Linked DNA regions of Homo sapiens: all the other regions are linked to region 1. The links come from fine-mapping of genetic effects on gene expression. A gene starts in region 1. Each other region holds a variant in brackets. All regions are shown on one strand. Distances are between the middles of the regions. Region 1 holds the start of TMEM245 (transmembrane protein 245). Region 2 overlaps TMEM245 (transmembrane protein 245). Region 3 overlaps TMEM245 (transmembrane protein 245).

The links. PIP is the estimated chance that this variant, and not a neighbour inherited with it, causes the effect.
Region 2: its variant is the best candidate, but not a certain one, in a credible set for the expression of TMEM245 in whole blood (TOPMed, PIP 0.64).
Region 3: its variant is the best candidate, but not a certain one, in a credible set for the expression of TMEM245 in B cells (Schmiedel 2018, PIP 0.67).

The regions. Positions count from the first base shown.
Region 1 is chr9:109,118,496-109,121,263 of GRCh38, forward strand. TMEM245 (transmembrane protein 245) reads right to left here and starts at 1,452. Exons shown (of 18, transcript NM_032012.4): 1 at 840-1,452. The coding sequence starts at 1,418. RefSeq lists silencers at 782-891, 1,242-1,411, 1,552-1,601 and an enhancer at 1,082-1,131.
Region 2 is chr9:109,029,593-109,032,360 of GRCh38, forward strand. All of the region lies in intron 17 of TMEM245 (transmembrane protein 245), which reads right to left. Among named protein-coding and RNA genes, the nearest start is that of MIR32, 15 kb to the right of the region's middle. The variant C/T (reference allele first, on the strand shown) is at 1,401.
Region 3 is chr9:109,072,744-109,075,511 of GRCh38, forward strand. It overlaps TMEM245 (transmembrane protein 245), which reads right to left. Exons shown (of 18, transcript NM_032012.4): 9 at 613-695. Among named protein-coding and RNA genes, the nearest start is that of MIR32, 28 kb to the left of the region's middle. The variant T/G (reference allele first, on the strand shown) is at 1,122.

The DNA.
Region 1 (2,768 bases):
GTCTGAGTTAGGAATTGTGTCACTAGATTACCTTTGAAATCTTTCCAATTCTAAAGCTCCCTGGTTTTGTAAGAGTAAGCTCAGGTTAATCCAAGCATCACAAATCTACGTCTCTCCCCTTCACGCGGTCAGCTGCTTTACTCCAGGCGGGAGGAGGTGTGCTGTGGTACACCAGTCCCTGCACAACAAAAGCAGTTACCTAAAAGTAAAGCGTGGAGAGGAAGAAGCACAGGCAGCTCAGCACCCAGTGCCTTGCACAAATTATACAGGAATCACCTGAACTGAGAGGCAGCACCAGCCAGTGAAGCAAGCTTTGTTTTAGGACTTGTAAGAAATCTAAGACACCCAAACCCCTCTTTGTCCCTAAGTAGCCCTAGCCTGGTAAGAGGTCACCTTTCCTATCTGCAGGATGGCAAGTTGGCCTAGAATCTCTAAGGTCCCTTCCAGCTCTGACATTCAGATGCGCAGAACTGAGGGTGGCCGAAGCACCCCCGCCCTCTCCAACCAGAAGTAAAACCAAGCCCCACTGCCATGCTCTGAGGCCTCTCTCTGCAAAGCGAAATAACGATTCTCAATCCAGGGCACTGTCCCCCTAAGAGGGCCTATTAGGATTGAAACAAGGCGAAAAGCAGGGAGGCTGTTTCAAATCACGCCCGCCCCCTTTTTGGAAGAATGTCCGCCAAATTCCTGAGGTGTGAGAAGGAAAGCGGAGACGGACGGTCACTGCAGCACAGGTGTGGCCCCTCGTCGCCCCTGCACCGGGAGGAACAGCTGCAGGATTGCACCCCAGAGCGCCGGGACCACGGGCGGGGGACGGGGGCGGACTGCCGCTCACTCACCCACAGGCTGCTGAAGTAGTCCAGCCCGCGGCAGATGAGCGTGGCAGCGTGCACCAGCAGCACCTGCACGCCCAAGTAGCTGCCGAGGCAGTAGAGGCCGTACAGGAGCGGGCCGCCGGCGCCGAGCAGCAGGAGCAGGCGGCGGCGGCGCAGCGCCTGCTCGCCCAGGGCCTCGACGCCGTAGTCGACGAAGCAGAGCGGCAGGAGCAGCGCGGCCAGGACGATGGGCGTGTGCGCGCGGTGCAGGCGCTGCAGCCAGTGGCGGCCCAGGCGCGTCAGCGAGCTCTTGAAGGGGTGCAGAAAAGTGCCGCATAGCACGGCCCAGAGCAGCGGCCGCAGGAAGGCCTCCAGGATGAAGTAGACCAGCACCGCGGCGCCGCAGCACAGGCACACGAACAGCACGGCCCCGGTGTTGTAGAAGGCCTGCTTAATGGGCTTGTCGAAGCGCAGCGCCAGCGCCGCGGTCCGCGGGGTCTCCCCGCCACCGCCACTCGGCCCGACCGCGCGCGGGACCCGCGGCGCCGGCCCGGGAGAGCTCCGCAGGCTTGGCGCGTCCTTAGGGCCGCCGCCGTCGGCCATCGTTCCTCCGCCACAGCCGCCCCCGAGGGGCGGTAATGGGAGTCGGGCTAGAAACGCGGGCGGGAGGCAGGGCGGGAGGCGCGCGAGATTGTGGGAGTTGTAGTTCCCCGCTGGTTTACAGACCCACCAAGCGCTTGCAGGAAACTACAACTCCCGAAGGGGAAATGGGGAAAACGCCTCCGCCTCCTTGGTGTCCGCAAGGTCCTGCTAACAAGTTTGCAGGGTCTATATCTTCCTGGAGGGGGGGGGGGGGGGAAGCTCCTTTCACTCATTCGTTAATGTCAATTTCTCGCGAGGCGAGATCCCAAAAGGCGCCACATTCAGATATTAAAACCCAAGCTGCATACTAGAATACCGTGGGGGAGTACTTTTAAAGAACCAATGCCCCGATTCTGTTTTACTGATTTATTTAACAGATATTTTTAAAGTGTTTTCTTTGGTGTATCTGACAGGATTTTAAATAGAGATTACCATATAACAGGCCCTATTCTAAGTGGCTCACTCCTATTAACTCATTTAATCCTTAGAACAACCCTACAAAGAAGGTGTTATTATCCTCATTTTACCAACAGAAAAACTGAGACAGAGCCGTTAAGTACGCAGCCAGAGTCACACAGCTACCAAGTGGCACAGGCAAGATTCAAACTCAGGGATTCTGGCTCCAAAGGCTATACTTTTATCTACCATAGTATTTGGCCTGAGGAAAGAACTCTTGGCATTTTTCAAACGTTCCTCATAAGCCTGTAATTTGCAGCCGCTGTTGACAACTGTTTGTGCAGGTTTCGCTGTGGACGCAATCTAAACTCTTAAAAGAGTCGTAGATCAAAGTCTCAAACTGCCACTGTTTCTTTTTGAGACTTGATGTAATGTCAGTTAAGCCCCCAATCTCAAGTTTTCCTCTGTCACATGGCGATGATAATAATAATAGCTTTTGCTTTAGGGTTATTGTGTGGGGGAAGGGAAACTCTGGGGCGGTACAAGGTGCTTCTGTTCCCCTATTGGAAAAGTGCTGGGATCCAAGCCTGCTACCCATAAAATATCCCAATCAACATTTTGATTTAAAAAAAAAAAGAAAGCCTTGACTGAGTACTCAACATGTGATTGCTTCAAACCTTGCAAGTTGTCCCTTTCCTGTTTCAATAGTATTCCTATTAATTTCTACATAATTTTTGTTTCCCTTCTAAAGCAGACAAGACAGGTAACATAATCCACAGTTTGCAGATAAAGAAACTATTGCTTGATAGATTTGGAGACAAAGGGATTTAGTAAAGGAAGTAAAGGAAAAAGTAATTCCCTATCCATCTCGATTGTAAGTTTTAGGTCTCAGTATTTCAGATGGCCTTTGGAGTT
Region 2 (2,768 bases), 89 kb before region 1:
TACCTCCTATGCATATTTTCCCGAAAATCTATAAGAGGATGTGCTCCACCAAAAAGGAAGAAATCAAGAAAGAAAATTATATAGGGTATAAGAAATAAGGATTCCAATGCAAGGGAGAGTTGAGGGAATACCCAAGGTGACCGCTGAACAGCAAGCCAAAAGGACAGCACTCCACTGGGGCAGACCAGGGCACTTAGGACAGTCTTCTTTAGAAGACCAACTATGCCTGGTGCGACTGAACATACCAAGTGGAGAGGTGAGTGCCTGGTGCAGAGCTTGAGATGGGATTAGTTATAAGTACATGGAAAGCAAAGCAAATAAAAACCAGTATCTTTATTAATTCAAGAGAAAGCAAAAGTCGTATGGGTAAAGAAATATTAGAATATATGACAAGGCTCAAATATGAATATAATTTAAAGTCATAATAATGTAAAACCTGAATACTGATCTAACCAGTATCACCGTTTGTTTTGGGGGAATGGGTAGTGAAAGCTAACTTCTAACCTTCCAAGTCGGAAGTTATTAGATGATGCCTATATATGACCAAATCAGAAATAAATACGTCACTTCAAGATATGGAGGTAAATATCAAAATAATACAGGGTCAAAAAGTGGTTCCTCTTAGAAAAAGGAAGAAGAGGGAGAAGGCAAAGTCCTTATTGTCCTTATTTTTCACTGAGTTTTGTAGAAATTTGACTCTTTAAACTCATGCATGAGTAACTTTGAAAGACAAAGGCTATATGGGTCCTCACGTTATCTTTTTCTACTCTGCCACGCCACATAAGCATTTTGTACTTTTAGAAGGACAAAGAGTTAAAAAGGTTTATTACCTCTAAAAGAATTCATTTAAGTTGCTTTCATTTCACCTTAAATACTAACTCTTGCTTTAGTAACTTGAAATCATTAAGTTTTTCTCAAAATAACAGCAAAATATTGATCAATTATCTTTTTTCTTTGTGTTTGGTGAGCCCATGGAACAGAGCCTCAAGTTAGCAAGTGCATTCTGTTGATTTCGAGCACCGCTGGCTTCTCAGGTATCTGAGCACTTGTCTTTAAGAGGCAAAGGCAGAAAAGGATATCATAGTGTCACCACCACCAAATTGGGAAGGCCCTTGTCAAAATCACCGAAGCACCTCTCCTTTTATTCTTTTGGAAAAACTGATTTTCCCCTGCCATCAACTAAGGATCACGCATTGGCTAAAATGGCCCCCTAACCAGCTCTAACTCAGAGACTTTACTGCATTTGTTCTGAGTTAAAGGACAATGTCTCTCTTCACAAAATATAACACTAAAAACAAAATTAAGCAGAATCATGTTGTTAAAGAATTTTACATAAAAGTATAAAATATTTTCATTAAATGCATTGTCAGAACCAACTTGTCAGTGACTCCTTGATTACA[C/T]GAGAATATCCAGTGGCAGGAAAACTAGTGTTTTCCAATTGCAGATAACAAGGAGAATGCCATATAGTTTCCGGAAAGTTCAAAACATTTTACTTTTTATTCTGAGACTGTCCTTCTTTTTTGTTGTTAAAATGTAATTTCTGGCACATAACATAGAAAACTGTTTTTAAGTATCCACCTAAACTTAAAACCAGATGTATAACCAGACATTCCTCTTTTAGGTATATGTCCAACTACAGTAAGTACTGTGCGCATGTCCACCAAAAGACATGTACAAAAACGTTCGTGGCAAAATAAGAAATTTTTTTTAAAAAGTTCATAGCATCTTGAATTAAAACAGACATAAACTGCAAACTACCCAAATATCTATTAGTCCTACAATGATTAAATGAGATTGTAATATATTCATGTAATGGAAGATTAGACAACAATGCAAGAATGAACCATGAACAGAGAAAAACATCCAACAATATGAATGAATCACACAGATACACTGTTGAGCAATGAGGACTGACTCAAGAGTACCTACCTACTATATGATTTCTTTTATATGAAGTTCAAAAACAGGCAAAACTAATGAAAAGTGACTATGGTTAGAGTATCAGCAGGCAGTGGGGTCTGACTGAGAGGAGGCAGGGAGAAGCCTTCCAGAACAACAAAAATATTCTATACCTTGATATGAGTAGTGGTTACATGGGTGTGAGTACATGAAAAAATCAACCTGTCTATTTAGAGGTACATTTGGCTATTTAGATGTACATTTCACCATATATAAATTATACCTAAAGAAATTTAAGAAAATTATAAGACAATTGAGAAAAATTTTCAAACATTATAATTTATTTTATGAAATGCTGGTGACAGCAGATAACAGTACTTTTTATTTTAATATCTGTACTTACAAAATAACATGTTGCAACTCTATATTGGTGTCCCAAATAATTTTTTCCCAACTTTGTATTTTAAAAATGTATAAACCTACACAAAATTGAAATGCCGGTACAATTAACAACCATATGTCTTTCATCTAGATTCAACAATTGTTAACATTTTGCTACAGTCACTTCCTCTCTCCCTCTCCCAGTTCTGGCGGAACTGCTTGCAAATAAGTGGCAGACATCATGACACGTCATCTTTAAAGGACATTCTTCTACAGAACCAAAATATCATTGGTTATGACTGGTTATCATTGTATCATTGGTTATCGAAGTATCATTGTTAAATTGGTTAAACCAAATTTAACATTGATATATTATTTAACATATGGTCCATGTTCAAATTTCCCCAATTGTTTCAGAAATATTCCTCCCATCCCCAATCCAGAAATCTATCCCAGACTCATGCAATGCATTTGGTTGTCCTATTTCT
Region 3 (2,768 bases), 46 kb before region 1:
ACCTGTAGTCTCAGCTACTCCAGAGGCTAAAGCAGGAGAACTGCTTGAGCCCAGGAGTTCAAGATCAGCCTGGACAACATGGTGAGACCTCATTTCTTAAAAATAAATAAATAACATAAATTTAAAAATTATATAGAAAGTTGAGGAGTTACAGTTTCCATGTTATAGTGGAAACTTTCCTTCAGTTGATCAGAAGCAGTGGTTATAAATGACTCTGCCACTGCGGAATTATTATCTCAAGTTCCTTAACCTTTGATCTTGTTTCCTCATGTGTAAAATGGGGATAATTTCTTCAATCTATCTCACACAGTCACTGTGAGGAACAAATGACATAAGACAGATGAAGTGCTTTGTAAATTATAAACATGCTGTAAACCTCAATTATAAAACAAAGTATCATTTACCATGAATTGTACCTAAAATCCTGAGCACTTTCCTCCCACCCTCTGTATTACATGACATTCTTCTTCAAAAATGACAATATTTATCAAAGCTCTGGCAAACCCTATCTTTTATCTTCCAATGCAGCTGCATCAATGAAGGTCATTTCGTGCAAACAGATGCTGAAACTAGGCCATTCATCTCTCTTCTTTTTCAAAACAATATTCTTACTTTGCCCACTCAGGGTGATTTGCTAGAGTTTCATTAATCAAATTACTTGTGACTTCAATCATGTGTACACTCTCTTGATGTACCTGTATTACAGATAAAGAAAGAAAAGAATCTCAGTAAAAAATAAACCCAATTTAACATTTATTTTTCTACTCTATTATTGGAACAATGCTTTGAGAGCCAAATAAATACACATCTTTGCTTTAATTAATTTAGAAACATGCAGCGCAAAGTTACTATACATTATATCTAATGATACGCACTACGGGAAATAAAAAGTACATGCTAGCTCCCTGTTCAACACATTACTTAAGAAAAAAATACATAAATAGATATGTTCAAATACTTGACACGTATATGTACATACATTTCATTTGCATGAATATATCGTATAAATGTGTTTGTGTATCTATGTAAGCAATATCAGCACTTTGTGAGCTAACAGGTTCATCACGCAGTGTGAGACAAACAGGCAAATAAGGAACTAACTTTTTTTTTTTGTTTTTTTT[T/G]TTTTTTTTTTAGCCAGGTTCTCGCTCTGTCACCCAGGCTTGCTGGTGTGTAGTGGCGCAATCTCAGCTCGATATAACCTCCACCCCCCACGTTCAAGCGATTCTCGTGCCTCAGTCTCCTGAGTAGCTGGGATTACAGGCACTCACAACCACGCCTGTCTAATTTTGTATTTTTAGTAGAAAAAAGGTTTTGCCATGTTGGCCAGGCTGGTCTTGAACTCCTGACCTCAAGGGATCTATCCACCTTGGCCTCCCAAAGTGCTAGGATTACAGGTGTGAGCCACTGTAAGTAAACTGCAACTAAGTAAGGTTTCTGAGTAAAAAAAGCCAACAGAAGCTGCACCTCTGAATTTACCTTGCCCAATAACCAACAAATTGAGGGAGATAAAATGGGAATTAATCAGTTGAAAAAAAATTTTTTCACCCAGGACATCCAAACAAGGAAAGAAACATAATCTGATACAATTTGGAACTCAGCCATCAGGTAAAGAAACAAAACATTCTGGAGCACAACAGAGAGGCGTAACAGCTCACTCCTAAACTGACCCCATCACCCAGGAGCTACACAGGTGAGCTGACAAATATATTACGATTCACGAGTAACAGGGAGAAAAGAAGCCACATCGTTATCCTTTTCTGATGACAGAGGGAAAGAAAGTGTAATGAGGGAGAAAAGGATAAATCAGAGGAAAGAGATCAAAGTCCCCCACCCACACCCACCCCTCATCTCTGTCCCTTTCTGCAGTGAAAGTTCCATAGTATGCCAGGAATTGAGTGAGACAGTACAAAGACTGACGGTATTTTTCCATGGGCATGGGTATGAGATTAACCAAGTAGCAAAATCACTAGGGCAAGTCACATACCAACCCAGAACAGAACAGAGTCTAGATACCCTAACAAAGATACATAGCCACCTAAGCCATCAAGTGATACCACTTCCAATTCTATCGGGCCCCAGAAAAGTAGGAAGAACACAAAATACAAACTGCACCAAGACGGGGAAAACAAACTGATTTCAGACACAATGAGGGGATAATCAACTCAGGTGCAATGCCTGAAAAACAGCCAGAATGAATAAGGCCTGACACGTTCTTGTGAGGACTTAGGCTAGCATTTTGTGGGATATGGAAAAAGAGAGGGCTGTAAGCTAAGGGACATAATCTTACTTAGATGTTTAAAGTAAGTTTGGACGCTGTGTTGAAAACAGACTAAATGAGGCTAAGGAACAATTCAAGAGAGAACGGGGATAGCTTTGAGCAGGACAGTAGCGGTACTGAGAAAGAAGTGACTGGATTTGAGACCTATCTTACATTAACCAACTGTTGGATGTTAAACGGGTTTTACATTCCCGAAATAAACCTCACATAGATATATTTTCCTTTTTACATACTGCAGGATTTAATCTGTTAATGTTTTGTTAAGGATTTTTGTGTCTATTTATAAGGGATACTGGTCTGCAGTTTCCCTTCTGTGAATGCCTTTGACTTTGGTATCTGGGCAATACTAGCCTCATAAAATGAGCTGACAAGTGTTACTTCTTTGCTAACTGAACAACACTGTGTAGAACAGGCAGTATTTCTTCGCTACATGTTTGATAAAACTCATCAGTGAGATCATCTGGGCCTGAGCGCTTCTTGGTAGGAAGAA